2 separate regions of the Homo sapiens genome follow, and region 2 is linked to region 1. Evidence: fine-mapped expression QTL. Tissue or cell type: subcutaneous fat. Region 1 holds a variant in brackets; the other region holds the start of a gene. All regions are shown on one strand. Distances are between the middles of the regions.

Region 1 (16,294 bases):
TACTTGCTTCAAACTCTTTTCTAAGATCACTACTCATGAGGGTGAATCTTTCATGACTTAATCACATTCCAAGGGTCCCCACCTCTTAAACCATCGCCTTGGGGTTTAAGTTTCAACACATGAATTTTGAAGGGACACATACATTCAAAGCATAGCACCAACCATGCCTATCACTGTGCCCAAAATGGCTCAGCAAACCTATTTATGGTTGGAGCAATAACAATATAGAAGATAACTTGATACAAGTGTTGGCCAGACGATAAAAATTCACAAGCCTCCAGTAGGAGGAAGCATTTGAGATACACTTCACCTAGATTGCCTGGGTGGGGCAAGGATGAGATTTTTCCTAGTGAAAGAAATCTAATCTTGGTCAACCATGTCGAGGCCCCAGCACAGCTAACTGAATGAAGTTCAAGACCAGGCTTAAGAGTAGCTGCACTGCAGGAAACCAAGGCAGATACTCACTTATATGAAGTAAATCAACCCAGGCCCCAAATACCAGGAATGAGGAGGCAAGACCTCAGGAGACTCTGGTCTCTGATATTGGTGCAGGGACTCGAGCCAGCTGAACCTCTTGCAGGTTAAATGCCTATAGCTGGCAAGGTTGGAGATTGCAGGTATTGTGAAATCAATCCCTTGGAAATAGGCTGAGTCAAGAAATATTCATAAATGAAGGAAGAGGATACATGAAGAGAGACGAAAAGCTGCTGCAGAGACTAATATCTTGTGATTTTCTCAACAGACGTGCTCTTAACATACTTTTACTATTTTTGGAACTCCCTCTGACTGATCCGGGTCTGGGTGAAATGCTTTCATCAGCTATAGTCTTACAGGAAAAGGGAACATGTTTTGCAGCTATCTCTTAAGGCAGTGTTTCTCAAAGTAGGAAATTTGCACCCCAAGAAATGGTGTGTCCTGCATCATTTCCTCACATCCCAATAGCTGGAAAAAATGTCTTCACACACCCTTCTCTTTTTTTGGTCAACACCTCCCCATTCTTCCCCCAACCCCCACTTTGTCCTGGAGTTAAGGAAGGTGCTGAAAGGAGGAGGCTTGCCAAAGTCAAACTTGAAAGATTCATAATTTAGCCTTTGGCCGGGCCTGCTGTTTTCATGTGAGAGCCAAGAATAAACCTGAATCAGACCAATGCCACTTTCTGAAGCCAAGAAATTTTAGAATCACAACCAGGGTACAATTCTAAAAAACATACATTATCTTTTGCTGTTACATTTCCGTTGATGTTTCATGATTTGTATTCATATAGTGTGGTGTGTGCGTGTGTGTGTGTGTGTTTACACAATGATGGTATTATATGTAAGAGTGAGGTTAAATATACTAACCTGCATCCTATAATCAAGGCTCCTTCATTCCTTGACATGAATTCCCAGACCAAGCCATCACCATCTTAATAGTTCTGATTCCTTCCCTATGCCCATCTTCCTCTGGTTCTTCATTTTCAGAGAAGGGCCTAAAGCTTTTTTATGATATGAGTAACTTATACTCTTCATAAAAGGAAACTAACATTTATAAAGTGCCTACAATGCATTATTTTTGTTTAACCCTAAAAAATCAACAAGATAGATATCATTATGTTTATAAATGAAGACATATTTTAAGAAAATTAATTTGCTCAAAATCTCACAGCTATTAGGTGAGAGAAATGATATTTGAGTATAAGGATGTGTGCTGTTAACAACCATATACTTTCTACAACGTCTTAGTTTAGTGGTAAAAGTGGAATTAGTTTTAAGGTATAGGGAGAACAATATGTGCCTTACAAATGATCTCAGGAAACACAACAGATTCAAACACTACTGAACATATTCAGAACGATTAACTTACGCCAACACTACTAAGAGGAAAACAGGAAAGAAAAACAAATAAATACAAATATTTCTTCAAATATATTTAACCCAATCCCAATTCATCTTTATCCATTTTTAACTTGGTGAGGACTGGAGGAAAAAGGGGGCATTGTTCCATGAATGGAATGCTCAGATTAAGAAAACTGAATTAAAACATTGTTTTCGACACCTATAATTTAACAACCACAATTTTTAAAAGTTTGTTACGGCTGAGTGTGGTGTTTCACACCTATAATCCCAGCACTTCGGGAGACCTAGGCAGGAGGATCACTTGAGCCCAGGAATTTGAGATCAGCCTGGGCAACATAAGGATACCCCATCTCTACAAAATTAAAAATATTTTTTTAAAAAATTAGCCAGTCATGGTGGTATGCACCTATGGTCTTATCTACTCAGGAGCCTGCAGTGAAAGAATCGCTTTATCCTAGAAGGTCGAGGCTGCAATGAGCTGTGATCATGCCACTGCAGTCCAGCCTAAGTGACAGAGCAAGACCCTGTCTCAAAAATAGAGAAATAAAAAATAATTTTTAAAGTTTGTCATAATCACTGAGAAATGTGATTCTTTAGCTATTACTTATCCTACAAATCAACAAAATCAAAGAATCAGAATTTTTAAAAAAGAATACACCTTTGGAAATTATCTTAGCTAATGATTTTCAAACCCATGGTGCCCTTATGGAACCTTAGTTCCATAGAAATCTTCCAGAACCTTGGGAGTGCTGAGAGAGAAATCAGTGTCAGAAGAAAGCAGTGAAAATTAGTGGACACCCAAATACAATTTTTTTGGGAAAAACATGGTTCCTTAACTTTAAAAGTTTGGAAATACTTGTCGCAGAGACTGCTCACTGTATAACTCCTAGTCTGTCATTTCTCATTGGTAACAGAATCCCAATCTTATTGGAGATGGCAACGTACTCAGTTCGAGGACTGCATTTCCCAGCCTCCCTGACAGAGATTAAATTCTAGCAATGAGATGTTAGCAGAAGTATGACATGGGACTGCTAGGACAGCACCTTGAAAGGCATGGCCACCCTTTTGTCCTGTTTCTCTTATTTTCTCTGTGCTGGAATGTGCAGGCAATGGCTAGAGTTCCAGTCAATGTGAACTACAGGGGACCTTGAAGGCAGAAGCCATGACTGAGCATGAAGCAACTCAAAGTAAGGAGCTTCAATTTGAGATGACCGGATGGTGCCACCAGACGATGTCAGTCCTAGACTGCCTGTCTCCAGACCTATTTTACAAAAGTGAATCCATAAAATCCTATCCTGCTCAAGTCAGTGATCTTTCCTGTCACATAACCAGATGAAATTCCTAATGATAAACCACATTTAACATATAAAGAATCCGAGGTCTTAAAAATTTGCCTTTCAGAAAGGAGTCAACGCTAAAGGAGTTAAACATTTATCCACTGTTTTTTCTTGGAACCCCAGTTTTAGTAACTTCCCAGTCATCTGAGTGTTCCTAATAGAGAAGCTGTGAACATTTACTAGAGCACATGCTCATAATTCACAGTTAATTTTACAGCAAGTAAAGGGAAATTTATACGCATCTGTGAAATTAAGCCAAACCATATAATACTTAGAAACAAGTGAAACCAGTGGGCCATAAAGATAAAAGACACACAAATTAAAACAATTTAAAAATGATAGTAAAATACACTATTACATTAGGTCAATATATTTTTACTCTGGGACAAAAACTTCAGAAGGAGTTAATATAAAATGCCCATTAAAGCTAGCTAGAAAGTTAAAAATGCAGTAGGAAAATATGTAACGTTGTAGAGTTAGAGGGAGTAAGTATCCAAATAATGCAAAACTTGAATATGTATTTTACCAAAGATATTTAGATAAGTTTTGATTTTGGGTTTTGAAGTGGGAATTACAAAAAAAAAAAAAAAGAGAGAGAGAGTCCAAGAAATATACTTGACAATGTGTCATGGTGAAAGCTGTTACTTTGACTTCACACCGGTCATGCCTATAACTCCCCTTTTATTTGTGAAAAGTCTGAGAATTCTGTGCAAAATAAATGAGAAATAAAACCAAAGCCCTCTTTCTTTCCAAAATATTCACCAACCCAGCCTGGTGCCTTTTTATTTTATTTTGTTTTTGCTCTGAGAGATTGTTTGAAGGAGTATTTGTATCCCTAGGTCAGTATTTCTCCATCTAGGCATGCTGACACTTGGACTAGATAATTCCTTGTCTTGAGGGCTGTCCTGAGCATTGCCAGATGCTTGGCCTCTACCTGCTAGATGCCAGTAGCAACAACTCCCACACAGTCATGACAATCAAAAATGTCTCCAGAGATTGTCAAAGTCCTGTGGGGGGAAATCCACTCACAGTTGAGGACCACGATTTAGGCTGTGTTTTATTTCACTCAAAGGTTACAGAAAAAGCCTGATGCTAAGCAAGTTAGAAGCAAGAAAAGAATTTGCACACTCCTTCTGCCAATTTTTAAAATCCATTATCTTAGAGGAGTGGGACAATAGAGTTGGCTTGGAGAGGCTCACCAGCTATGGGCTCCTCTCACATAAAGACCCTTGTATCTCTGCTCAGACCCTGAGAACTTAGTGCTTATGATGGCCAAGTCACCCTGGGCACAGGCCAAGGGAAGCACTCTCCCTGCTAGTAACGGGTCTTTACTACTGCTCCTTGTTTTCTTCCCTTTGGCTTTGAGGGTACTTTCTGGCAAGAGAGGAAAGAAGGCCTGAATATTTCCTAGTGGAAACACTGTCAGGGTCTTTCTTGGCCAAATTGCCTCTGGCTGTAATGAAATAACTTGGAGTCAGAGCAGAAGTGTCCCAATCTTCCCCAAAAGGCCATGGGCTATGCTGGACAGTACGTAGTTTCCCTTTGCAGTGTTCCTGCAGAATACATTTGCTAAAGTTATGCAGAATCTGGTTCCAGATAGAAACTATTTGCTTACCCACCTCTCCTTTGTTATACCCAACTGCAATGTCCCCAGAACTGCAGCGCAGTTGAAATATTGGTACTAAAAACTAGAGAAGTGTAGCATCCAGGTGTCAAAAACATTAATAGATTTCCGCAAGAAATAAGTGGATAGATTGAAGGAAAAGTCCACCTACTTGAGAGTCATGTGAGGAGAAAAAAACCCACCTGGAGAGCATGTAAAAAGTATCTCCGGGGTCCCCTGGGGTCCTTTGTTTCATGTAATTGCATATTCATCAGTGTCTGACTTTGTCTTTGGATTATAAACTCCATGAAGGCAGGAACATTGCCTTTCCTCTCCATTTTACCCCAGTGCTAATCTTTTTTGAATGAATCAATAAAAAGAGAGGATTTCTTTTTTGCACAGGTGTTTGCCCTTCCTATTTTTTTTTTGCTTTTTATTTTATTTTATTTTGAGACGGAGTTTCACTCTGTTGCCCAGGCTGAAGTACAGTAGTGGCACGATCTCAGCTCACTGCAACCTCCGCCACCCGGATTCAAGCAATTCTTCTGCCTCAGCCTCCCAAGTAGCTGGGATTACAGGTGTGCACCACCTCGCCCAGGTAATTTTTGTATTTTTAGTAGTGACAGCGTTTCACTATGTTGGCCAGGCTGTTCTCCAACTCCTGACATCAGGTGATCCACCCACCTCGACCTCCGAAAGTGCTGGGATTACAGGCATGAGCCACCACGCCCGGCCTGCCTTTCCTTTTTTTGTATGCAATGTTTTTACATACTTTTTATTTTTATGAAATCTAATGTATCTATCTTTCCTACTTTTGGGGCATTTTTAGAATGGGCCTTGCCGCCCCAAGATTACATAAATATTCAACAAAATTTTCCTGCAGTACTTTTATGGTTTCATTTGCAAGACTTAATTCTGAAATCCATCTGGATTTTATTTGTGAAAGAAGTGAAATAGTGCCAACTATTTTGTTTCAGAGCCAGTTTCTCCCAAGTTGAAAACTTCAGCTATATCCAGTAGTGTGATGTTATTAAAGCTGATAGGATTTGAGATCAGAAGGCCTGGTTTTAAATTCAGCTCCACTCACTGTGCAAATTTTAGCAAGTCCTTTAACCTTCTGAGAATTCTCAACAACATTTATGGGAAGAGGACTCAAGGGAAGAGACGGTTTAGGAATTCCCGTGAACAAAACAGCCTTTGAAGATAAAGATGGAGAGTGGAAGGGTAGCCTGATGGGTGGGAGCGTGTGCTTGAGTCTGACTACCTGGGCATCTATCATTGTGCCCCTCCTTTGTCATTGAAAAATGGGATAAAAAATAGTACCCTTTGCATGTTTGTTTCTGCAAATCTCATGTTGAAATGTGATCTCCAATGTTGAAGGCGGGGCCTGGTGGAAGGTGTTTGGGTCATGAGAGCAGGTCCCTCATGGATTGGTGATGTCCTCACAATAGTGAGTGAGTTCACATGAGATCTGGTTGTTTAAAGGTGTGCAGCACCTTCCTCCATCTTGCTCTTGCTTTCGCCATGTAGTGAGCCTCCTCCCTCTTTGCCTTCTGCCATGATTGGAAGCTTCCAGAGGCCTCCTTAGAAGCAGATGCCAGCACTATGCTTCCTATACAGTCTGCAGAACTGTGAGCCAGTCAAACCTCTTTTTTAAAATAGATTACCCACCCTCAGATATTTCTTTATAGCAATGCAAGAATGACGTAATACACTTTCTTTGTGTAGTTTATCATAATGATTGAATAACAAATGTAAAGCACTAAGACCAGCGTCTGGATCATGGTAATAAGTAATAAGCATTAATTCTCACGGAAAGGGATGTCATTGTTTCAGTGAGGATAACAGAAAAGATCCCCCATCCATATCCTTTGAAGAAACTAGAAAAGTATGTCATCAAAATATGCTTCAATTTTCTAATTTTCTCTTGTAGCTGTTTTGAAATATGCAACATATTGTTGTTAACTGAAATGTTCCTAACACAAAGAAATAATAAATGTTCGATGTAAGGGATATCTTAAATACTGCAATCATCACACATTGTATGCATGAATCAAAATATCACATGTACCCCATATATATGTAAAAATCTGGAGTATTAAT[A/T]AAAAATAATAATTTTTTAATGTGTTTCAAAATGAGCTAATGGGAACAGTAAAGAAAAGGTAGTAGAAACATCAGTTGGCTGACAATACAACCAAAGTGACTTCCAGTTCCAGTTTCCTTTTGTTCTTGCAAATGTATTATTGTCTGTGGTCTGTCCTTCAGATGAGAAGGGTAATCACTAATGTTTTACAGTTTTAAGGGAGTAATTTTATTAAAGTCATTAAATTACTACCTTGAAGTTTATAAAAATCAATTCCTTTTATATGGATAGATTTTAATAACATAAATGGAGATGAGCATCTCTAGAAAAGAACTGATAAAAGTGGCACATACTGTTAAGAAAGTGGGTTGCAAGAGAATACTTACTTCACATGCCCAATCATAATGAATCTTTTTTTTTTTTTTTTGAGACAGAGTCTGCCTCTTTGCCCTGGCTGGATTGCAGTGGCACAATCTCGGCTCACTGCAAGCTCCTCCTCTGAGGTTCAAGCAATTTTCCTGCCTCAGCCTCCTGAGAAGCTGGGATTATAGGTGCCTGCCACCATGCCCGCTTGTAATCCCAGCTACTCAGGATTATGCATGGCTAAGTTTTGTAATTTTAATAGAGACAGGTTTCACCATGTTGGCCAGGCTGGTCTTGAACTCCTGACCTCAAGTGATCCGCCCGCCTTGGCCTCCCAAAGAGCCGGGATTACAGGCATGAACCACCACACCCAGCCCCATAATGAATCTTTTCATTACCATTTTGAGCCCCTAAAATGCTGAAGGAATGGGGGGTGGGGTGTTTTTTAACTACACGGTATCAGAGAATAATAAATACTCAACTCCTGTTTTCACATCTCCTTTCCCTTCCTAGGATTTCCCTGGATTACAGGCTCTGAAATGGCCTAGCCTCATATCAGACCAGGCAGGTGCAGCTCAAGATATGTGACTTCCAGAAACTGCTTTCAGTGATTAATGGAATTGTATATCTCTTTCATTAGGTCCATATTAAGGGCTTTATTACTTGAGCTGAATTTAAAACTCATTTAGAATTGCTTATCATTTCACAGTTCATCACATAACCAGATAGCATTACTCAACTAAGGATAAAATAAATCTGTTTTATTGTTTTGGGTTCTTTTTTTCTTTTTTGCTTTCACAGAATGTTTTGATTTTCTGACACATTCTCTTTGACAACAGAAACATTGTCAAGTGGCATGTTCCCATAGAGAATATAAACGCTCATTTGATATTGATGATTGTAAATACGGCTTGATCATTTTAAGTTTATTAAGTCATCACATTTATAACTTTTTCCCATGAGCAATTTTCCTATAGTATATTGAATCAGAGAAGCAGCAGTTATTGGGAACCTTAAAATAAATGGACTGTTTTTCCACCTATGCCTCATGTTGGGGGATCCTTTATCCCCAGCCGGCTCCTCAGTCAGTGAGTTTGGTTAGTGGGCTTGGTGGTGGGAGTGGGGGCAGGTAGGTACAGGCTGAGTATACGCTCTACAGCCACATTCAAAGAAACAGCCAGGGCTCCCTTTATCCAGCTCACTTATCCGGTTCAGTTATTACCCTCTTGGCCAGCCCAATGAATTTACCTTTGGTGAGCTGACCAGCACATTCCCTGGCCCTCACTCCTCTGACAGCTCAGCCAAGCCTCTGATCCTTCTGTTCTAGCCTCTGGGTGGATAACTGCAGTCAGCCCTTTGCTCTTCGGTGATGGCCAGTTATCTCAAACACAGAGGCAGGAGAAAACGCCCCATTTAGGCTCAGGTTCAAGCCCTATTCTCCATGACGATATTGTCAACAGCAAAACTGGGGCTTGACCCCCGTTTGCTGTTTTGAGTTTCTTCTGTACACATTGGAAGCCAGAGAGAGAAAGCAGTGATCAGCTGGGACTCCTGCTCTCATGGCACAACGTGCTCACCATTTGTTCAGTCGGGCACCAGGCCATGGAGCGGGAGCCTCATGACTGATGTCAGCAGCAGCAATGAAATCCCAGGTTTCCATTTTCACATGGAAAAGAGCCCTACTCTAATCCCACCAATTTTCAGTTATTGTTTCTTGACATTAATTATCTGAAACAGCAAAACGTCAAATATTATTCCATTTTGATTTCTATTTCAAACTGAGATAGGAATCAGATCCTGGGCAAAGAATGTTTGCTCGAAACTGGAGGAAGAACAGTCACTTACTAATTTACTTCCACCGAAAAAAAAAAAAAACGAATTAACACAACATTCCCTTTTCTTTCATAATCGTTCTCCATCGAGTTTTCTCTTTCAATTTTCAAAAAAACTAGGTTCTCAGATGAGATATTAGTACTTTTCAATTTTAGATAAGAAAATGAGTCCCACCCCCATGCCATCCACTATTCATTTCAGAATTCCAGACTGCTCTGCTGACGTTTTCAGGCAACTGTCAACAGATTGGTCGATGATATGGTTTGGCTATGTCCCTGCCCAAATCTCACCTTGAACTGTAATAATCCTCACATGTCAAGGCCGGAGCCAGGTGGAGATAATTGCATCATGGGGGCAGTTTCCCCCATACTGTTCTTGTGATAGTGAGTGAATTCTCAAGAGATCTGATGGTTTTATAAGCATCTGGCATTTCCCCTGCTGGTACATTCTCTCTTTGCCTGCTGCCATCCATGTAAGACGTGACTTGCTCCTCCTTGCCCTCCACCATGATTGTGAACCCTCCCCAGCCATGTGGAACCGTAAGTCCAGTTAAACCTCTTTCTTTTGTAAATTGCCCAGTCTCGGGTGTGTCTTTATCAGCAGCGTGAAAATAGACTAATACAGTTGAAGATCAGTGACTGGCCAGATGATGGGCCCTATAAGTTGTCATATGCATGCCACAAATACACTCAACAGACCTAGGTCAGCACTGGCAAGGTTTACTAGTTTTATTATTTTTTTCTGTTTACTTAGGGGTACCATTCCTTTTACTGGGAGCAGGAACTATTTCCATGTTGACAGTTATGTTTGCTTCCTGGGGCTGCTGTAACAAGTTACCACAAACGTGGTGGCTTAAAACAACTGAAATGTATTTTCTCACAGTCCTGGGAGCCAGAAGTCCAAGGTCAAGGTGCTGGCAGGCCACACTCCCTCTGAAGGCTCTAGGGGAAGAATCCTTCCTGGCCTCTTCCAACATCTGGTAGCTCCAGCTGTTCTTTGGAAGAGCTGCATAACTCCAACTTCTGCCTCTGTTTTCTTTTTTGTTTGTTTATTTGTTTCTCTTTTGTTCACAGCTTTATTGAGAAATAATTCACATACTATACATTCAGTCTCTTAAAGTATACAACTAAATGATGTTAGTATATTTTCAAAGCTTTACATCACCACTATCTAATTCTGGAATATTTTTATTCCTCCCAAAAGAAACCCCATACCCATTAGGTGTCATGTCCATCCCAGTCCCTAGCCCAAGGCAACCATTAGTTTACTTTAAGTATGTGTAACTTTGCCTATTCTGGTCAACTTCTTTCTTTCTTTCTCTCTCTCTTTCTCTTTCTTTTCTTTCTTTCTGTCTTTCTTTCTTTCTTTCCTTCCTTCCTTCTTTCTTTCTTTCTTTTTCTTTCTTCTTTCTTTTTGGCATAGCCTTTTCCTCTGTGTTTTCTCTCCTTCTCTTGTCTTACAAGGGTCACTTGTCATTGGATTTAGAGATGATCTCATCTTGAGATCCTCAATTTCATTTGTAAAGACCATTTTTCCAAATCAAATCACATTTATAGGTTCTGGTGGACATATATTGTGGTGGGCCACCGTTCAGTCCACTATGCCAGAAATGTAAAAACAGGATGCTTGTTCCTGTATTTCTGATATATTTTAGTAATTTAAAGCCCCTTAGAGATGACTGACTGTTTGAAGCTTCCCAGTTGGCTGCATCCCAATCTGGCTATTGGCTAGGGAGAGGAAGTCATGCACTGAATTAAGAGACGTTTGAAAGAACAGGTTCTATAAAAGAATTCTGTACACTCCCCCACCAAAACCCAACTGGTAAGTGCTCAGTGTTTCATGAAGCCAAACTTGCTAACACAACAACTCCGCTCATTCTTCTCCCTGAGCAAAACCACCATCCTGTTAAAACCCAAACCTCCACCTTTCCTGCACTTGTGCCTAAGAATGGACCAAAGGACTGACTGACTTCAAATTAAATTCATGACCAGTGACAACAAATTGACATTAAACACGCATCAGCAATTCTACCTCATCTGCCTAATAAGTCTGTTTTCCACACTGTAGGACAAAATTTCCTACCTTCTCCTCTGGCCCAGAGGGTCCAACTCCCAACATTCTTAGCTGATGATCTTGCATCACACTTCACTGATAAAGCTGAAAATCTCCCATCCTCAAATTTATAATAAGCTGACATCCGTATCTATAATCTCAGTGTTCTATCTTGTTACAAATGTATGATTCATTTTCCTGTCAGACTCCTTTAGGATAGCATCTCAACACCCTTTCTGAAGGATCTCACTCCTGCAATTAGCCCTTCTCTCCATCATCAGCCTTTCCTCCATGGGTCACTTCCACCAGTATCCAAGGATACTCTACTAACTCCAGCATCTTATGAATAAATTCTCCCTTGGGGTCTTAGTCCCCTTGATGCCTTTTTCTCCACTCCTCTTTTTGGGAATTTTTGTTCATTTTTCAGTTCATCTTCCTTGAATTTCATTTCCCACAACTCATTGGATACTACCCATGTGTAAGTCTCAAAACTCCCTCATGTTGTCAATTTCATCAATCACCTCCATGTTCTCATCTTCCTTAACTTTTATTTTAACAATTTCCCTCTCCTTTGCAGATTTCTGCACATTAGTAGTGAGCTCTATTTTCCTTATTCTATCAGTGACTTCCTTTTTTTCTCGATGCACCCAAATTATGCAGAGATAAAATTCTACTGCTAGTCTGCTAGTCTACCCACCCAGTTCAGTTTTTCCCATATGGGTGCATATATATATATATATATATATAATCAGTTACCCCAAGGGAAATATACTAACAGAGGAATATGTAAATGCTATTACTAAAACAGATATATTTAGCTGTTTGTGTGTATATGTACAGATGTACAGCTGTGTGTGTGTGTGTGTGTGTGTGTGTATATATATATGCAAACAGCTAAATATATCTGTTTTCGTAATAGCATTTACATATTCCTCTGTTAGTATAAAATCTACTTATTATACAAAATGGTCAGTGAGTTTCCAAAGTCTACCAGGGTGATGAGTAACTATTTCAAAAATTGGCAGGACTTTTGTTTTCTGTAAAGATGATTGAAGCATGACTTTTTGTGCAAATTAGATTGCTATTTTTTTGGAGTAAAAGGGTCTGAATATATCTCTGAGAAGGTCAACACTTGTTGAGCCCTTTATAGTTTTCAGTGAAATTTCATATTCTTCCTTTTATTTGATCCTTACAATAGCCCTGTAAAATGCTGGTATTTTTCCACTTTTCACATACAGGAAGGAGGATCATGGAGTCTGTACGACACACCTGACTCCCTCCAGCTGTTACTCAAGCCCATGGCCACCACCCCAGTGTCCTTAACCTTGGGTGCACATTGGAATCACCTGGGGAGTTTTGAAAAATCTTGATGCCAGGCTGCACCACACATCAATTAAATCAGAAGCTCTGGTGGATGAGACCAAGGCATCAATAGTTTTGAAAATGCTCCAGGTAATTTAGTGTACAGCTGTGTTTGACAGCCATGCATTGCTCCATCCTTTCTGGAACACCATCGTCTCCCAAATTCAACGCCCTCCTTTCTCATCTTTAAAAAGGGTGTTTGCCGCATTTTACAGGGAAGATGACCTCTTGGGATGAAGTTTCTTGCAAAACTTCCTTATAAGGAAGAAAAAGCATGAAGGAACAATAGCAATAAGTTTAGATATATAATTTTCCCCCAAGCCTCTGATGGAAATTTCTACATCTATATCAATTGGAACATAAAAGATGTCAAAAAGTGTGCAGTGTGATTGATGGGAAGTATTAAAACATTTAAGCCTGTTTCATAGTTTTTCACATATCATATGGTATTCATATTCAAATTCACCTTCAAATATTTCATGGATATCATCTTCTTATTCTTTCTAAAAGAATTACAAATGTGGTCCTAAAAGTTGACTTACCTGTTTTATTTTTAGTAGCTAGAGATAATGTTAGAATGGTTTGAGGAAGACCCCAAGTATCTTAAATGCTTGTCCTAGAAGTGCACTCTACGTATGTAAGATCTCACAACTGCTAGTTGTAAAAGAATTTTTACAATTTCACTGCTTGGCTCTGAGGGCTGGCTTTGAAAATGGCAATTATTCTGCTGTGATAATGAAATAGCTCTGCACCTAAACATGCACTGGGGAGAAGCAGTGTTGGTAAAATATAAGCCAGTAGCACACTGCCATTTTTCAACTATTAAGAGAGTATTTTCCTTGCAAAGTTGGGCTACGTATAAAAGTAAGTAGAAGTAGTCCCAGAATACAAGTATATTACAAGACTAATAGCAATATTATTGAAAGAATCATAATATAAAAATTTGTTTTAAATGGTGGTTCTTAACAGCAGTTCTTAAGAATATAAGATTACATTGTTATATTATATGGTGAGACCATTGCCTCACTTTGCCATATGTAAAATGAGAATATTCTTCTGAAATTCACACAAGCCTGGAAAGTTTGCTCTTAATTTTCTCAGTATCTAAAGAACAGAATAAAATCAAATTTTGTTATTACTGAATTAGTTTCCATTACCATATTTTAAGTAAAATAAATTTAATTTTTTTTTAGGTGATTGATAATAAGGGGGCTGTTGGAGACCATTACGTCACAACCATTCATCTTTAAGGATTTAACTGGAAGAGCAAACAACTCTTTCTAGAATGTCATTGCCATCAGATGAATGCCCGGCTTGAGAAGTGGCTTCCTGTTATTACGGTGTGAAGTCTAATTCTTTCACTCTAATTTCTTAGACCACATCTACCCATTTTGCTTCTTCCTGTTTCCCGGCATGCACTCTGTTGCAGTCAGGCTGCTTCCTGCCTGTTGCCCCACCCACTCCTTCATGCTGTGTCTGTTCATGCTGCTTTTTCCACTGGATCCTCTCTGTCTCCTCTCTCCCCAGAAAAAGTACAATCATTCCTCAAGGCACCATTCAGGTCACATCCCCTCCATGAAACTTCTAACTACTCTGGACCACAGTGATCTTGCCATTCTCTAAGGCTCCACTTCTCTCACAGGACCACAATGGCTACATGTCCTCCTGGCCCTTCTGTAATTTTCTACTCCATGCTAACCCTTGCTCTGAGGTGCCAAGGAGAGTGCACACAGATGCCCAACACTGACAGACCAAACCCTATAGCATAGAGAACTGACATCCTACTTCCTGTGTAAACACAGGATCCATCAGAACCTAAAGGCAGTTTTGATGGTTAATTTTATGCATCAACTTGACTGAGCTACGGGGTGCCCAGACATTTGGCCAAACATTATTCTGGGTGTGTCTGTGAGGGTGCTTATGGATGAGATTAACATTTCAATCAGTAGACTAGTAAAGCAAATGTTCTTCCCTGATGTGGGTGGGCCTCATCCAAAGATAATTGAGAAGAAACTTCTCCTGCCTAACTGTTGTTAAGCTGGGACATCAGTGTTCTCCTGCCTTCAAACTCAGTCTTAAACTGTAACTTCTCCCTTCAGTTCTGTTGGTTCTCAGGCCTTTGGACGCAGTCTGAAATGATGCCATCAGCTCTCCTGGGTCTCCAGCTTGCCTACTACAGATCTTGAGGCATGTCAACCTCTACAACCACATGAGCCAATTCCTTATGATAAATCATAAACACACACACACCGCAAACACACACACACATTTCCATCCTATTGGTTCTGTTTCTCTGCAGGGTCCAGATTAAGACAGCAATATAGACTGTGCTCAAACACTGCTACATTTACCATCTCAAGATGGAAGGAGCCCTCAAAGTAGCTCTTTAAATGTTTGCAATGTGCCGGGGTAGTCAGCTGACCTTTTTCTGCCCCTGTTTAATTGTCAGAAAAACATAAGTTGGATTTAGTGCTCCTTGAAGAATAATTCATCTTTAAAGTTCTGTAACTCTGATTTTTATTCTACTCAACAGATGGACTTTGGCCCATTGATTTAGCACCATGTCAGCATCATTAAATTTAACTAAACAAAGTCTGCTCATTGTGCATTTACCTGAGTGACATTATCCGTGTATACATGTACAAGTGACATGTCAGGATTTCAGCTGAGGTGTGATTGATAGACTATTAGGGACTATTGGCAAGTAGTCTAAGCTATTCCTATCTTAATACGTACCCTTTATGTCATTCAGTATTAACCAGTATGTAAAGAATTAGTGCTACTTGGCCCTGTTTTCTCCCCAAGTCTAAGGTAACACAGTAGACTGAACCTTCTGCTCCTGCTGGTGTAGCAGTCTGCCAGAGCTGCCAGGATTCTGGAAGGGAGGGAGAACCATGTCCTCTACCCCAGGATTGCAGTCAGCTAAGGATATTTCATGCCCAAAATAACTGGGTTTCTTAAGGTGACAGCTCACAAATACTTAAGAACTTAAATCTGTCCCTGCCTGCACCCCACCTCATCCTACTCCCTGCCGAAGCAGGCTGAGTTAGAATAGATTAGGGTGGAGGTTCTCAAATCTCATGGAATATTGGAATCACTTCAGGAGCTTTCTTTTTTATTTTTTAAGTAATGGTTTTACTGAATTTACTCACATACAACACAATTCCTCCATTTAAAATATCCAGTTCCACGGATTTAGTACATTCACAGAATCATGTAATTATCACCACTATCAGTTTTAGAATATTTTCATAATTTCAAAAAGCAACCCAGTATCCTTTAGCTGTCATCCACCACCTTCCCTATCACCCCAACCTCCCAGCCCTAAGCAACAACTAATCTACTTTTTGACTCTATAGATTTGTCTATTCTGGATATTTTATACACATGGAATGATATATGTGTAGTCCTTTGTGGCTGGCTTCTTTAATTCAGCATAATTTTCCAAGGTTTATCTAAGTTGTGGCATGTATCTGCACTTCATTTTTTATGGCTAAGTAATATTCCATTGTATGGACATACCACGTTTTGTTTTACCATTCATCAGTTGGTTGACATTTGGGTCATTTTCATCTTTTTGGTTTTTATAAATAATGCTTTTATGAACATTCTTGTCCAAGTTTTGTATAGACATATGCTTTTATTTCTCTTGATATATACATGTGAATGGAATTGTTGGATCACATGGTAACCTTATGTTTAATTTTTCAGAAACTACCAAGTGGCTGTACAAGTTTATATTACTACCAGTGGTGTATGAGGGTTCTGCTTTCTCCACATCCTCACCAAACTTACCATCTGACTTTTTCATTCTAGCTATCCTAGT
Region 2 (16,294 bases), 50 kb after region 1:
ATATCACAAAGTTCTAATATCTTTAATATATGTGTTACCTTTGGCCCTCCAAAAAGCATACACCAAGATAAGATTTCATCATACAAGAGATTTACTAGGAAGTGCCTGTAAAGGCAAGGAGGGAGGGAGCTGGGAAAGGTTATATGGTTTGGCTATGTCCCCACCCAAATCTCATCCTGAATTGTATCTCTGATAATTCCCACATGTCGTGGAAGGGACCCAGTGGGAGAAAATTGAATCATGGGGGAAGGTCCTTCCCATGCTGTTCTCGTGGTGGTGAATGAGACTCATGAGATCTGATGGTTTATAAAGGAGAGTTCCTCTACACAAGCTCTCTTGCTTACCACCATGTAAGATGTTGACCTTGCTTCTTATTTGCTTTCAACCATGATTGTGAGGCCTCCCCAGCCATGTGGAACTGTGAGTCGAATAAACCTCTTTCCTTTATAAATTACCCAATCTCAAGTATGTCTTTATTAGCAGCATGAGAACAGACTAATTCAGAAGGTAAGGAGAGCCTCCAGACTATGGTCCAAGTTGACACCTTCTGAAGAAGAAGGGAAGGAAAAGTGTCAGACTGTTGCACAGTTACAAGGAAGTTTTAGCTGACGTGAGACAAATTCACCAATTCAAGAAATCCCATATATTACAGTAATGAGCCTGCATTAGAACCTTTGCCCTGCTTTGCCATTGGTTGAGAACAGCCTATAGAAAGTGTGGCATGAATGCAGGAATGGACCCAGAAGAGCAAAATCTAAGAGAATCTAAGTCAATTATGCTCCTTGCTGTAGATCAAATGGCATGTTTTCAAGGCCACCATAATACATAAGAAGTTCTTACAAATCAATATGATAAAAGAGGAAAATACCAATATCAAAATGGGTAATGGACATTATACCAAATTGTCTGTTGTCCACTCAGGGTCATTTTTTTTTTCTTTCTATGCTCTTCTCTGCATTGCAAAGGCTAGAATAATCTGTGCCATCGGGATTCTGGGTCACAATTCACCAATGAGAGGAATTTTGTGAGATTTTGGAAAGTGGAAGAGAAGCGGAAGCCATTTCTCACCCTGTAGCAGTGTTGTGCAAGGATGAAGACTTCAGCCAACAGTAGAGGTGAGGTTCTGCCAGGATCTCCTGGGTGACCTGCACATCATTGGTGCTTTAGGCAGCTGAAATCACCAACACGGTTTCCTGATACACCTGCACTTCAGAATTCCCAGAGGTTAACAGTAGCTTTCTCTAATCTGTTTCCCAATATTTCCCAGCAATATTATAAGCCTCTGATTCCCTGTATTAAATCCTTCCTACGTGAAACAACTACAGCAGTTTCTGACCAAATCCTGGTGTATTAGTTTGTTTTCACACTGAGACTGGGTAATTTATAAACAAAAGACGTTTAATTGATTCACAGTTCTGCATGGCTGGAGAGGCCTCAGGAAACTTATAATAAGGTGGAAGGTGAAGGGAAAGCAAGGCACCTTCTTCACAGAGCGGCAGGAGAGAGAGGGAGTGCAGGAGAAACTGTCATTTTTAAAGCTATCGGATATCATGAGAAGTCCCTCGCTATCACAAGAACAGCATGGGGGAACCCACCCTCATGATCCAATCACCTCCCACCAGATCTCTCCCCTGACACATGGGGATTAGAATTTGAGATGAGATTTGTGTGGGGACACAGAGCCAAACCATATCACCTGGCTAGCAGAAATACGGACAAGCAAATCACAAACGAAAACATAGAAATGCCAAATAAATGTAAAGAAATAAAATCATAACTAAAGAATACAAATTTTAAAAAATGAGATATTATTTTTTACTTATAAAATTGCCTACGGTTTATTTTATTTACATATATTATGTACTTGTCTAGTTTATTATAAACAGTCAAAGTTGGCAAGAGACAAACAATAAATAAGTAAAAAAACAAAAAACAGGTTCTGTTATGCACTCCTATTGGGAGTTTATATTTTACATCTACATTTGTAAAACCTTTCTAGAGGTCAATATCTGTTATAACCTCTTAAATGTTCATAACCTTTGTTATTCTAATTTTAGTTACAGAAATTAATCTTAAGGAAAATTTGGAGTACAATATTATATGTAAGAGTATTTATCAATGTGGCACATATACACCGTGGAATACGATGCAGACATAAAAAAGAATTGAATTCATGTCCTTTGCAGGGACGTGGATGAAGCTGGAAGCCATCATGCTCAGCAAACTAACATAGGAACAGAAAATCAAACACCGCATGTTCTCACTCATAAGTGGGAGTTGAACAATGAGAATACATGGACACAGGGAGGGGAACAACACACACTGGGGCCTGTCAGGGGATGGGGGGCAAGGGGAGGGAAAGCATTAGGACAAATACCTAATGCATGTGGGGCTTAAAACCTAGATGATGGGGTTGATATGTGCAGCAAACCACCACGGCACATGTACACCTATGCAACAAACCTGCACATTCTGCACATGTATCCCAGAACTTAAAGTAAAATAATAAATAAATAAGAGGATTTACCACAGTTCAAGTTATAGATCAGAATTTTTTTTAAAGCCTGAATATTTAAATATTTAATTTGTCATGACATACAGTGTCTTAGTCTGTTCAGGCTGCTATAACAAAATACCTTAGACTAGATAATTTATAAACAAAAGAAATATATTGCTCGGGAAGTTGCAAAGTCCAAGATCAAGGTGCCAGAAGATTTGATGCTAGGCAAGCGCCCATTCTTCATAGATGTCGCCTTCTGTGTGTTCTCACATGGCAGAAGGGCAAAGAGGCTCCCTCTATTATAACAGCACTAAGTCCATTCCTGAGGATGGAACCCTCGTGACCTAATCATCTTACAAAGACCCCACCTCTTAATACCATCACCTCGGAATTTAGGCTACAACATATGAATTTTGGGGAGAACACAAACATTCAGACAATAGCATATACATATAATAGAATCACTGTGGAGCTCTTATAAACCATGTTTTGGTATAAATGTAATAATAGAATGAGTTCATGATATAATATAAGTGAAAAAGTAAGATATATAATTATAGGTACAGTATGATTACACTCTTTTATATAATGTATACAATGTATAATATGTGAAATATATATGTATGCATAATAAATACATGTACATAAAATATTTCCTGGTATGTACATGTGTATATATATTTTTCCATGTATATAATTTATACACATTAACAAAAAATGAGAAAATATGACAAATATTTAACAATAGCTATTTCTCCAGTGGCAGGATTACAGATAATTTTTATTTTCATACATTTCTGTCTGACTTTTCCAAATGTGCTATTATGAGCATAAATTTTATAATTAAATACAAGTCAATAAGCATTTTAAAGTGCCTATAACAGCCCATCAGCAAGTGAAGAGATGAGATAAAAATGTGTCTGCACTTGGTACACATATTGACTTTCTTTTACTTCCATTTCCAGATGATATTGACAAAGATATTGAAAAAATTTGATTAATATGCCTCAGCTTAGATTTGCTATGCGAGAGCAAAGTCTTATTGTTTTAAAGGAATTATTTGCTGATCAGCTATAGGCTGACTTGACCTCATATTCCTACCATGATAGTCCCACAGTGTAGGGATGGGGTGGTATGACTCCCAAGACTTGGAGTATGTTATTTTCTCAGGGCAATGAAGATTTGGAAAAATGATGGCAAAGACAGAATTACTATCTCATCAAAGACATCCCTCAGCAGTATCTGTGGGCTGTGCAGTGTTCTCAGTTCGATAAAGGATTAGAACACAATGCTTCTTTGGAGAGCTGTGACTTGATACTGCATCAATACCTTTCTGAGAATTGTTTTTCATTTTCTTGCCTCTTTAACTTATTAAGCCTTAGGAGAATTAGTTGAAAAGCCAAGTCTTTGGGGTAGATACTAACATTAAGTCTTCTACTCTGTCATTTGCAATCATAAATTCCAGAACACAGCTCCTAATTCCATTGTGTATTGTTTTCTAAGGGAATGATAGACAGATTCTTTATTTTTTTAAACCTCTAAGCCTACCACACTTGCCGAGTTCCTCACTAGTCACTAAGAAAGTCCTGCCAATCAATGCATGGGTTTATGTCCATTGCTCAGCTCTTCTCCAATCAGACTCATTCCCCCAGCATCCCTGACACACCACTCTAAAATGCGGCTGCTGATGGTTCACCTTCCTCACTTTTGTCTACAAATCTCAATCCTGCTGATTCCACAAATCCTACATCAAGCAATATCATTTTATGAGTCTTTCCACAACCACCCCTTCAGGGGATTCTTCAATTTCTGTCACACCGGAAGTCTTCAGAGTATCACCCTCAGAGCCAGGCAAGAGGGACCCCGGCTAGGGTTTCAGGCTTTAGAGAGTCCAGCTCTGACTCCTTTTGGCCATAGGACTAATGTGATATGCCCACCTGGAGCCTGTGCCCTCCTTTCTAGACCATGCCCTGGGACTCAGAATCCCTTGCCCCAGATGGCCACACAATCACTTTCAGGTCCATTCTCTCTGGGCAGACAACATCACAAATGTGTGTACCCCAAGGCCTGAGGCCAAGAAGGCAGCTTTCTGGCTGTAGGGGCTGAGGTGTTCACACACATTTGCATGGCCCCTCAAGACAAAGAACAAGGGGGAAAGTGAGAAGAAAAGAAGCAGCCAGTGATCAGGGCCAGCTCTTGCAACTTAACCATGTTGGGTCATTCTGATTAAACCACTTAGCTCAAGTGTAGTGCTCAAGACACTTAGCACATTCTCCAGCTGAATTTACCAGTGTTCATGGACTACCTGGGTTAGAAATATATTTCACTATAAAGTAGCATACAAAATGAGCAGAAAGGGAGTTAATAAGATTAATAATAGAGTTAGTGAATATTATGAGCTGAGTTTTTGAGAAACGTAATTTCTTTCAACACTAATAACAACCTTGTGGGGGTTCATTGTCTCCCTTTAAAAATTAGGAAACCAAGGCTTTGCCATGGTCGCATAGGAGGGTCAGAATAGCATCTTTATGACCCCAGAGCATACTCCTCTCCACTCCACCTACCCATGTGTACAACTCAGACACTTTCTGGGATGTCCACGTCAACTATTCTTTAAAGAGTAACCAACAGATGGATAGTTTTCTGTTTGTGAATCAATGGTAGGTGACTGAAAAATTGGTTCTGAGAGGTCGTTTTGCAAGGATTGATGGTCACAGGCTGAGAAGCAGATTTGAAAGACCTACCTGCTAGCAGCATGAAGAGCTGCTCTTCCTTATCTTAGTATTAACTAGTTAATTATTGGAGGTGGGTGCAGGGGTGGATTATGTGTATTCTTAATTGTTGTAGAGTGGGGACTGGGAGTTACAAAGACTTTTGCAATTTTCGACCTTGCAGAGCTGAGCAATTTTCAGTTGCTTTGCTTGCTGATAGCACTGCTTCCCTTATCTACCATGGAACACATCTTAATGAAGAATTTGCATTCACAGCATCAGGTTAATGAATACAAAACAAAACAGTGTATATCCCTCTGATGGATGGGATTTCGGAAGCACAGACATTATACACATATTTGATGATAAAGTACTAGAAGTGCAGGGAATTGAGGTCAAGCTTCCTCCTAAGGGGACTGAATCCCAGAGAGAGCAGGTGACTTAGTAATGAGAAGTGGAGCTGTCTGTTCAACCAGGATGCTCCTCCTATGGCACGAAATTCAGTTTTAAAAATATATTAAATTCAAATCAAATGTGTTAGGTGTGAGTTCTATCCCTACAGGTATGAGGCAGAGGTGGAGGACTTTGTATACAATAGAGAAATAAATACATATATTAGGTCTTCCATGACATAGGATTTACTGACCCTCTCATGGGCATTCCTCTGAGGCATTTTGAGATTTATTGCTATAAAAGAGCCTCCCAAACATTATCTCACTTAGAAAAGGTAATCATATTAATATGATTTTGTTCACAGGAGAGAATTTAAGTGCCACTGCTTAAAGTTATCTCCTTGTTCCTAGGTTTAAGGAGACCTAGTAAATAAGAACATTCCACTTTGTCTGCATCAATAAAGATGAAAGATGACTTAGGAGGTGGGAATTGGAGTGGGAAACATTTTTCTATGTTCCCGATATTCTGAAACACATGTGACTTTATTCAATCACAAGGTAAACAGATTATGTAATTTACCAGAAAAAAAGTAATAAGACTGGTGGTGCTAGGTTTTCATACTCCAGCTATTAATGAATTAAAGAGAGTAACACTCCTGAAAGGATACCATTTTCTCAAGAAAACTGGAAAAGATTGTGTGGCATTTAAAAAATACCAAACTCTGTGGCCATAATGCTCTTAAAATTCATCTGTCTAAAGAAATTAGAAGTGAATCATATTAAATAAGGTTTAGATATGTCCACTTTATCTTCCTGAAAATATAATTTCATTACAATCAGATTTGTCATATTTTATCTGATTTTACTTGCTATTTAAAACACCTTATAATTTACTTGCATATTTAGAATTACAATATTCTTAATATACTTCTTGATCTTAACAAAACCTAGGCCAAATGTTAATCAAATCAAGCTGTTCAAAGTTACTTTATAGCACATTCCTATGAACACACCATACACACAGCAATATCTAGCAAGGGTGTCAATTTTTCGTTATTTTTAAAAGCTCATTTAAAGAAGTTATTTACTACAAATGACTCTACACACACACACGCGCGCGCGCGCGCGCACACACACACACACACACACACAAACCTTTTTAAAGAAACGCTAGAACCCAACCCCCTCTAGGCCAGAGGAAAACATTACAGCTGTATACGCACTTGTGCCTGTTGCCGTAGAGTAATACGGTAGCAGCAGGAGATTACGGTACTAGCTGGGCTACTGCCTGAGTTACGTCAGCGAGAGCTGCAAAGTTCCTTGCTATTCTTTTCTGGTGTCGGGGAGCTGAATATTAAAAGGGTGATTGTGGAGTTACCGGTTATCTGCATTTTTTTTTCTTTTCTTATTTTGACTCTTTTTAAAAAATGCAGGTAAAGTGACAGCGGTTCAGGAGCTTAAAGACATCAGTGGTGGAGGGGTGAGTCAGCGGGTGCAAAAGGACAAGGATTTGGTGCCTCGGAGACACGGTCCCCTCTCCGCCTCCAGAGAAGAGCAGGCAGGCAGCTCCCGGGACCGAAGCCGGGTCCACATCCCCCGCGCGCGAGCTGGTGGCTCAGCAGCGGCGCTTCAGGTGAGTGCGCCGGGGCCGGCGTCCCGCAGGGCCGAGTGGGTGAGGGCAGACCTCCCCCGCCGTCTGGTGAGACGGAACCCCCACTTTTCCCAGCGCCTCCCGCTTTTTCCACCAGGTTTTATACCGGCCCCTCTACCCCACCCCCGATTCCCTTACATCTTCTGCGAAGTTGCCTTCTACTGAACAAGTGTCTTTTTAACCCTGTGTTTATCACCCTCGAGGTAGGAGGAAAAGGGTTTCTGCAGTGGCACGTTTTTAATACCACCTGTGAGGTCTCCAACTTGCGATTTTAACAAGAGTCTTTGCCCGAGGTCCCACCTCAGGGCCCAACCCCAGAAGGCAAGGTGGGCACTTCCTCACGCCGCGCTGTCCTGCCGAGTCCCTGCGGTAGGTTCGCAGTTGTGGAAACCCAGGTTTCTTACGCAGATGGTGGCCCCCAGCCCAGAAAATCGAAGGCGGCCCCTGCCCGCTGGCATGCCGGCTTAATGTTTACGCCTGCAAAATCCGCAGTGACTGTCACTTGCAAAGCTCCCTCTGCAGAGGGACGTCCTCCCCACCCCGTCCCCCGCCAGTCCCGCTACGGCTGGCAGCTGGAGCCCCTCGGGTGGCCAACAGTGAGGCTTGGAAAGGCGTCGTGGACAGACCTGGGTCGCTTTCTGTCTTCGGGTCCCTCCCGGCTTCGCTCGGGACCTGGCTCTCAAGCCAGCTTGGCTGGTGGACAGACCGGTGCGCTCTGCACACCCGAGTGCGAATTCCACCGGCGTGAGAGTGAGCGTGCTCGTGGTCCTGGCCCTGAGGTCCCTGGGTCGCAGCTGTTCCCTCTCCCAGGCCGCCCCCTCCAGGTGACTGCGAGGCAACCTGTTCTAACGGAAACCGAGTACATCCTCCAGAATTCCCCGGCTAGGATCCGTGCGACACACTCGCCAGCCGCAGTCGCCCCTCCGGGGCTTCGAGGATTTTAATTTCGTGGTACCTGCGCTCGAAATCCAGACTTCGAGCGCTGGAGCCTGGGGTTTTGGGGATTTGTTTTTTTGTTTGTTTTTCGCTTCGGATCCTGAACTCGGGCAGAGGTGACTCAGTAGAGTGCGCTAGGCAGGTTCCCAGTGGTGGGGGCGCGAGATGAGCTCCGAAGTCGCCTCCACCGCTGCCGGGCGAAGCAGCTTCTGGACCGCAGAACCAACCCGGCTCCCAACTGGTGTCCCCCAACCCGTCAAGCTCAGCACAGCCTCTTTCCCTGGGGCGCCTAGCTCAAAGCCGCCTTTCTCTTTGCGCTCTTTCAGGTGGACGCGGTCAAACGATGCCCCGCAGCCTCCTGGGTCTCAGCACATATTCCACACCTACGTCCCCTGACCTGTGCTCCTAGAAGCTGGAGAGAGCAGGAGCCTTCGGTGGGGCAGCTCAAAATGTAGGTAACTGCGGGCCAGGAGCAGCGCCCAACCTGTAGCGCTGCGCTACCCAACCATCGGTCCCTGCCTTTGAGCGTCGACGGCTGATCTTTTGGTTTGAGGGAGAGACTGGCGCTGGAGTTTTGAATTCCGAATCATGTGCAGAATGCTGAATCTTCCCCCAGCCAGGACGAATAAGACAGCGCGGAAAAGCAGATTCTCGTAATTCTGGAATTGCATGTTGCAAGGAGTCTCCTGGATCTTCGCACCCAGCTTCGGGTAGGGAGGGAGTCCGGGTCCCGGGCTAGGCCAGCCCGGCAGGTGGAGAGGGTCCCCGGCAGCCCCGCGCGCCCCTGGCCATGTCTTTAATGCCCTGCCCCTTCATGTGGCCTTCTGAGGGTTCCCAGGGCTGGCCAGGGTTGTTTCCCACCCGCGCGCGCGCTCTCACCCCCAGCCAAACCCACCTGGCAGGGCTCCCTCCAGCCGAGACCTTTTGATTCCCGGCTCCCGCGCTCCCGCCTCCGCGCCAGCCCGGGAGGTGGCCCTGGACAGCCGGACCTCGCCCGGCCCCGGCTGGGACCATGGTGTTTCTCTCGGGAAATGCTTCCGACAGCTCCAACTGCACCCAACCGCCGGCACCGGTGAACATTTCCAAGGCCATTCTGCTCGGGGTGATCTTGGGGGGCCTCATTCTTTTCGGGGTGCTGGGTAACATCCTAGTGATCCTCTCCGTAGCCTGTCACCGACACCTGCACTCAGTCACGCACTACTACATCGTCAACCTGGCGGTGGCCGACCTCCTGCTCACCTCCACGGTGCTGCCCTTCTCCGCCATCTTCGAGGTCCTAGGCTACTGGGCCTTCGGCAGGGTCTTCTGCAACATCTGGGCGGCAGTGGATGTGCTGTGCTGCACCGCGTCCATCATGGGCCTCTGCATCATCTCCATCGACCGCTACATCGGCGTGAGCTACCCGCTGCGCTACCCAACCATCGTCACCCAGAGGAGGGGTCTCATGGCTCTGCTCTGCGTCTGGGCACTCTCCCTGGTCATATCCATTGGACCCCTGTTCGGCTGGAGGCAGCCGGCCCCCGAGGACGAGACCATCTGCCAGATCAACGAGGAGCCGGGCTACGTGCTCTTCTCAGCGCTGGGCTCCTTCTACCTGCCTCTGGCCATCATCCTGGTCATGTACTGCCGCGTCTACGTGGTGGCCAAGAGGGAGAGCCGGGGCCTCAAGTCTGGCCTCAAGACCGACAAGTCGGACTCGGAGCAAGTGACGCTCCGCATCCATCGGAAAAACGCCCCGGCAGGAGGCAGCGGGATGGCCAGCGCCAAGACCAAGACGCACTTCTCAGTGAGGCTCCTCAAGTTCTCCCGGGAGAAGAAAGCGGCCAAAACGCTGGGCATCGTGGTCGGCTGCTTCGTCCTCTGCTGGCTGCCTTTTTTCTTAGTCATGCCCATTGGTAAGTCTTGAACACCCCTCACTTTAGCATCTGGGGGTCTTCACCCTCCTCGGCTTCTGTTACCCCAGACTCCCAGTCCGGGATGGAAGAGGAAGGATTAGCATTTCAAACAGCACAGCTCTAGGGCAATTAGAAAAGGCTCCCTTGTAGAAAAGTGAATTTTCATTCTCTTTCTACTCCAGTCTCATTTATATTAGGTCCTAGAGCACTTTTTCGACTGTAAAGTGGCTTCCAACTGATGCAGATTAATTGGTCTCTTTAATAAGAATGTCAACTTTTCTTAATGCCTATAAGCACGTGTTCAATTTAAATGCATCTGCTCTCTCTAGTCTCAGAGTCTCCACCAAGTGCTTAGGCTGACTGTGGAATGCCATTTTCACTCTGCTACAGAATGCAAATTCTCTTGGCCTGAAAATAAGTACCATGCTTATTCTGGACAAATGTGTGATTTTATTATTGCATTAGGTTATTCATAAGGGTTTGTTATAATGGTCTGTTTATGTTCTATATCTGTGCTAATTTTATTTTCTGGATTCAGTATGGAAGGAATTATGGTCAGCCACTAAGAAAAAAAAATGATTTTATGTCCAAACCAATTTAAGCCTTAAATAATTAATCATAGTATTTCCAATAAGTAAATACTTATTTTTTTATTTTAATAATAAGTATTAAAACAAACACTTCTCTTATCCAAAATCATCCGGGAAGTTGCAGATAACACTGTTTGAAAATAATACAGTACACATAATGTTACAAATCCAATTTTTGCAGATGCTAAATTAGCTGTTGTCAAAATTAATTAGCTCATTATAAGTATCAGCAAGCTGATCCACTTGGAATAGACATCTATCTCCTTCAATGAGATCCCAAAATGGTTGTGTGCTATTTTTAGTTTGTAAGCTCAAATACAGACCCAAACATCGATTATCCACCAACTCTAAAAAACAAAACATTATGCCTAACATTAATAAAAGTCCATTTCAAGTGCTTTACAGCCTAATTTAAATGGCATATACTTAAAGTACTTTAATTTGCAACTCTGTGGAATAATAGCAACTATTATTTTTTTGTGCCACTTATGTTCCAGACATTTTCCTAAGCTTTTTATTTCATTAGTCCCCTCGACAACTCAGTGAGTTATACACAATTATCCTGCAATCACAAGCCATGGGAAGGGATTCTTCAGGTTCTAATACCATAGCCACCAGCCAAGGATAGCTATTTAAATGTTAATTGAAATTAAATAAAATTCTTTCAGTTCCTCAATTCCTCAGTCCCACTGACCACATCTCAAGTGCTCCATAGTCACACGTGGCCAGTGACTACTGTTTTAGACAGCAGAGATATAGGTCATTTCTATCATTGCAGAAATGTCTGTCCTGTAGGGCTGCCAGAGAGGCCCTCCTTAATCCAATACCTGGCCTTCCATTGTGCCTGCCCATCATTATTACTTACTCTGCTCCTGGAAGTACATCACAGCTTTGAAATTATAGAAATTACACTCTTTACCTGAGCCCCTTTGCACACGTATTCATGCGTGTGCTCGCTCAACAAGTATTTATGGACCATCTGTTCTAGGCACTTTGGATGAACAGGGCAGAAAAGTCCTTGCCAATGAGACGGTTGTATTTGGAAAGGGTAGACATAAGCAAATGATTGTATCCTAAAATGTCAAGATTAACATGCACTATCAAAAAATCAACAGGATGAGAGGCTAGAAAGTGACAAAGACAATGAGGGCCTGCTTTAGTGGGTAGTGGGGAAAATTCTGTCTAAAGAGGTGATATTTGAGCAGAGTCCTGACTGGACTGAAGAGCAAAGCTTGCAAGATCTGGGAAGAAGAGCTTCCTGGGCAGAGGGAGCAGCGAGTACAGAGATGGGAAAGAGCCTGACCTGTTCAATGAAGATCACAGAGGCCAGTATGGCTCAACTACAGACAGGGAGGGGGCAGTCAAGTTCAAGAAGAGATTGGAGAGATAGACAACACCAAAGTCATATGGGGTCTTTCAGGCCAAAGTAAAGTTTGCATATTATTCTAATTGTGGTGGGAAGTCATTCAAGGGTGTTTAGCAGGTGAGTGGCCAGTCTCATTTATATTTTTGAAGGATCATTCTGGTTGTTGGGGGGAAAATTGGCTGTTTGGGGGCAAGAGCAGAAGCAGAGACTAGTTAAAAGGCTATTAGAAGTCGAGGGGAGAGAGGTCATGACATCTTGGACTCAGGTGAGACAGGTAGAGGTGGTAAGACGTGATCACATTCAGCACTTATTTTACAGGTAAAGTTGATGAGTGTGGACAAGGGTGTGAGAAATAGGTAGGTTTAGGGCCTGAATAGCTGAGTAAATAGTAATGCACTTCACTAAAACTGGCAAAACCAAAGAGTTATGTGGCTGCAAGGGGCTGCAGGGAGTGAGAAGTATGAGCCTTTCTTTTGTATCACTGTGTTGAGAAACATTCATTAGACATGGAAGTAGAGATGGCAAGTAGGGAGTTATACACTTTACATAGATTTGGAGCTTAGAGAGGAGGCGGGCTACAGATATAAACTTGGGATATATCAACATCTTTAAAGCTACAAGAATGGAGAGGTTGACAAGAGAAAAGATAAAGAGAGTAAAGAGAGATAAGAACAGAGCCTCTGCACCTTTAGTCCCAGCTATTTGGGAGGCTGAGGCAGGAGAATCGCTTGAACCCGGGAGGCAGAGGTTGCAGTGAGCCGAGATCATGCCTGCACTCCAGCCTGGGTGCAGAGCGAGGCTCCATCTAAAAAAAAAAAAAAAAAAAACAGAGCCTCTGGGGGTCAGGTCAGGAAAAACAGGAGAAACAGCCAGCAAACAAGATTGCAAAGGAGTAGCCAGGGAGAAGAAAAATCAGGAGAATGTGATGTCCTGGAAGCCTAGTGAAAATGTTTCAAGAAGGCAGGAGTAATCAGCTGTGTCACATGCAGCTGAGAGGTCAGGTTAGAGGAGGACTGGGAGCCAACACTAGATTTGGCAGTAAGCAGGTTTTTAGTGATAGGAGGAAGGCACGTGAGGCTCACAGGTCCAGAGGAGTGATGGAACCAAAAGCCTGATTGTGTACTTTCTAGAAAGAACAAAGGATAAAAAAAGTGGGAACAGGGAAAATAGACAACTCTTCTGAAAGGTTTTGCTATACACTGGAGCTAGGAGATGCGGTGTAGCTGGAGGGGTATAGAGAGAGCTTTCAATGGTGGGAGGTGGGGATATGACATGATATTTATATTCTGATGGGAACGATGGGATAGAGAGAGGCACTGATGGGATAGGCAAAAGAGGCAACGGGATTCAGTGCCCAAGGGGAGCATTGGGAAGTGACAAGGAGAGCAAAGTGTGTGAGCCCTGAGGCAAGTAGAGACAGAGGGAGAGAGATAGTGATCTCTTTAGGATATGTTTATGTCCTCAGTGAAATATGAAGCAAGGTCATCAGCTAAGAGAGAGTCAGGAATGGGGAACGATGGCAGTTTTAGCCTCAGAGAAGGTGTGAAAGATTCATCTTTGAGAGTGGGACAGTAAACATTTTATGGAAGTTTGGTAGAGTCACTGGGAAGTCCTGAAGGCCTATCTGAGATTTACGGTCATAACATTAAAGTACAGCGGGAAGGAGGGTTGTGTGTTTTTCTCTAAGAGCTAAGCAGCTGAGGGATACAGGAGGCAATGCTGAGGACCTACTGTGAGTCCCAGAGAGTGTGTGTGTGAAGAGACACAGACTCGGTCAGGTTAGGGAGCATCCACAGCCAGGTTGTAGAAGGAGCCCAGGTGACGATGGGTGGCCTGAGAGTTTGGAGCTTGCAGTGGTGGCTGAGCTATGCATAGAGATGAGAAACAATGGCCTGGGTCCTGGAGTCATCTAGGGGAGGTGGATGCTCTGACTAGTCATAGCCCGCTCTTGGATTTGCTCTCCCAGGGAGTCAGCAGTGTGGAGGAGAAGATGTTGTGGTGGAGAGAAGTGGTGGTAGACAGGAGCCCTCGGAATCACTGGGCTTCTTTTAAATCCTAGTGAGGTGCCAGGCGCGGTGGCTCATGCCTCTAATCCCAGCACTTTGGGAGGCTGAGCAGGCGGATCACTTGAGGTCAGGAGTTCGAGACCAGCCTGGCCAACATGGTGAAACCCTGTCTTTACTAAAAACACAAAAATTAGCTGGGCATGGTGGTGCACGCCTGTAATACCAGCTACCTGGTAGGCTGAGGCTGGAGAATCGCTTGAACCCGGGAGACAGAGGTTGCAGTGAGCTGAGTCACACCACTGCACTCCAGCCTGGGTGACAGAGCGAGATTCTGTCTAAAAAAAAAAAAAAAAGAAAAATGATATGACAGGAGGGAAGTAGGGAACATACAGTTCACAGGGTCTGAGTAGCTGCTCAGTAGTGCAAAGGATCCCTGAACCTGCCAGTCTGTGGCTCTCAATTTCTTCCTGACACCAATTGAGTAAGAGATGATTTCCTCCAAGAATGTACTGGCTATGTAATAAGCACCAGGCTCTCAGCTACACAGAATAAAAAAGATGAATAAAACACAGTGCCCTCAAGGGCCTCACAGTCTAGTTAAGGAGACAAATTGTCAACAATTATTGCAAGTCTATGACATAGGTGCTCAGAGTGATATTATTACATGGTGCTCAGGATGGTGCTCAGAATGATATTATTACAGTGTGCTAAGGAATATAGCAGTTCATTGTGCCGAGAGGTCACTGAGAAGCTTCTACATGCATGACCATTGACAGAGCAGAGACTTAAAGAAGATGGCACTACTTCTGCTGGGTCGTCAACGAGATGTTATATGTTTTTTTATTAACTGTCTTAAGTATGTTTTTCATGCAAAATGTGAGCAGAAGAATAAATATACTATCATATTATTATATTCAAGGGACATACATTCTTAAATATGACGTGCTGTTTTGGAGAAAAGGGCTGTCGGTCTGCACTAGGCTGCGGGAGAGGAAAGAGATTAAAAACTGAAACCAGGGCAGGGATGAGTGTGCTATCCACAGCTGAGAAGTGAAACACCCATGTTTAATAGGGACTGACCCAGGAAAATCAGGTGAGTAGGCTATTTGACTGCAAAGGTCCTTCCTGTATATTGTGAGAAGTCTCACGTTCCCTTTTCCCAAGCTTCTTTCCACTAAGGCTGGGTTGCTTGCTGCATTGAATAGCATGACTGTTGGGAGGAATCTGACTTGCCTGCTTCCAAGTCTAAATCTTGCTAATCTTGTTCCATTTTTGCATCCTAAATGTTTGGTTGAAATTCAGAATGCCTTCAAGGGAGGGGGGTGCCATGTGCAGTTGTTAACAGTCATTTATACTTTGGAGCAAATGCTTTCAAAAGCAAATTTTGGCCATGGAGATGAGTAGAGAGACTATGACGGTGTCAGCCTTCAACCTACGAAAGAGAAGGAAGGATAAGAACTCTGCTTCTCAGGAAGCTCCAGCATCTAAAGCCTATGAATCATCTTTGTTGATTTCATCTCATTGTCTAGAGCCCACTAGTTCCAGAGGCAGTGTGCTGCTGAATGGAGAAACTGTTGGCCTGAGATTTAAACCTAGGCTTTCTTTTTCATATAACAGGGGATGTTATATAGGTCAGCTGCCCAGCATAGTGCCTAACTCAGAGTAAATGGTAATAAATGTTCATCTTACCAGAATTCAAATGATTCACAGACCATTACTGATGTATGTCAACATGCAGATGTTGCCATGAGGGGTGGATGTCCTTGGCATTCTAAGAAATAGAAAGCATTGGAAAGAAGATGAAAAGGCAACAATCACTGAAAACATAGTTACGTGTCTGAATTCTGGATATGTTATCTGATTTAAACACAAAACCCAGCGTTATTATAGGACCTAAGCCATTGATTGCTGTTGCCACTGAATCAAAGGAGGCAGCATTGGGCTGAGATGTGGCTTACATAGACATAGAATATTTGAGGATTATGTTTATAAAAGAACAGGAGGCAGCACATTGATAGAGCAGAAAAATGTGTTTTAAGATTGGATGTTTGAGGAGGGCACAGCTGGCAGTGGATTTATCAGGTGGAGGCAATGAGGCAGAGAATGATTCATTCATTCATTCAGCAGTTTCATTGAACATATACTGTTTGCCAGGAAGCTATAGAATCACTGGAGATAAAGACAAATAAATCCCTGCCCTAATGGAGCAGAACATCTGAACAATTAGATACCTAGCAAAGGTATATG

Evidence for each region.
Region 2: it holds the start of ADRA1A, and the variant in region 1 is fine-mapped to the expression of ADRA1A in subcutaneous fat (TwinsUK, PIP 0.95).

Annotation. Positions count from the first base shown.
Region 1 is chr8:26,908,149-26,924,442 of GRCh38, reverse strand. No RefSeq gene overlaps it. Among named protein-coding and RNA genes, the nearest start is that of ADRA1A, 49 kb to the right of the region's middle. The variant A/T (reference allele first, on the strand shown) is at 6,879.
Region 2 is chr8:26,857,878-26,874,171 of GRCh38, reverse strand. ADRA1A (adrenoceptor alpha 1A) reads left to right here and starts at 6,894. Exons shown (of 3, transcript NM_000680.4): 1 at 6,894-7,236; 2 at 8,517-10,085. The coding sequence starts at 9,203. It overlaps LOC124901917 (a long non-coding RNA gene), which reads right to left. Exons shown (of 3, transcript XR_007060866.1): 2 at 15,737-15,818; 3 at 15,390-15,479. RefSeq lists an enhancer at 7,673-8,624.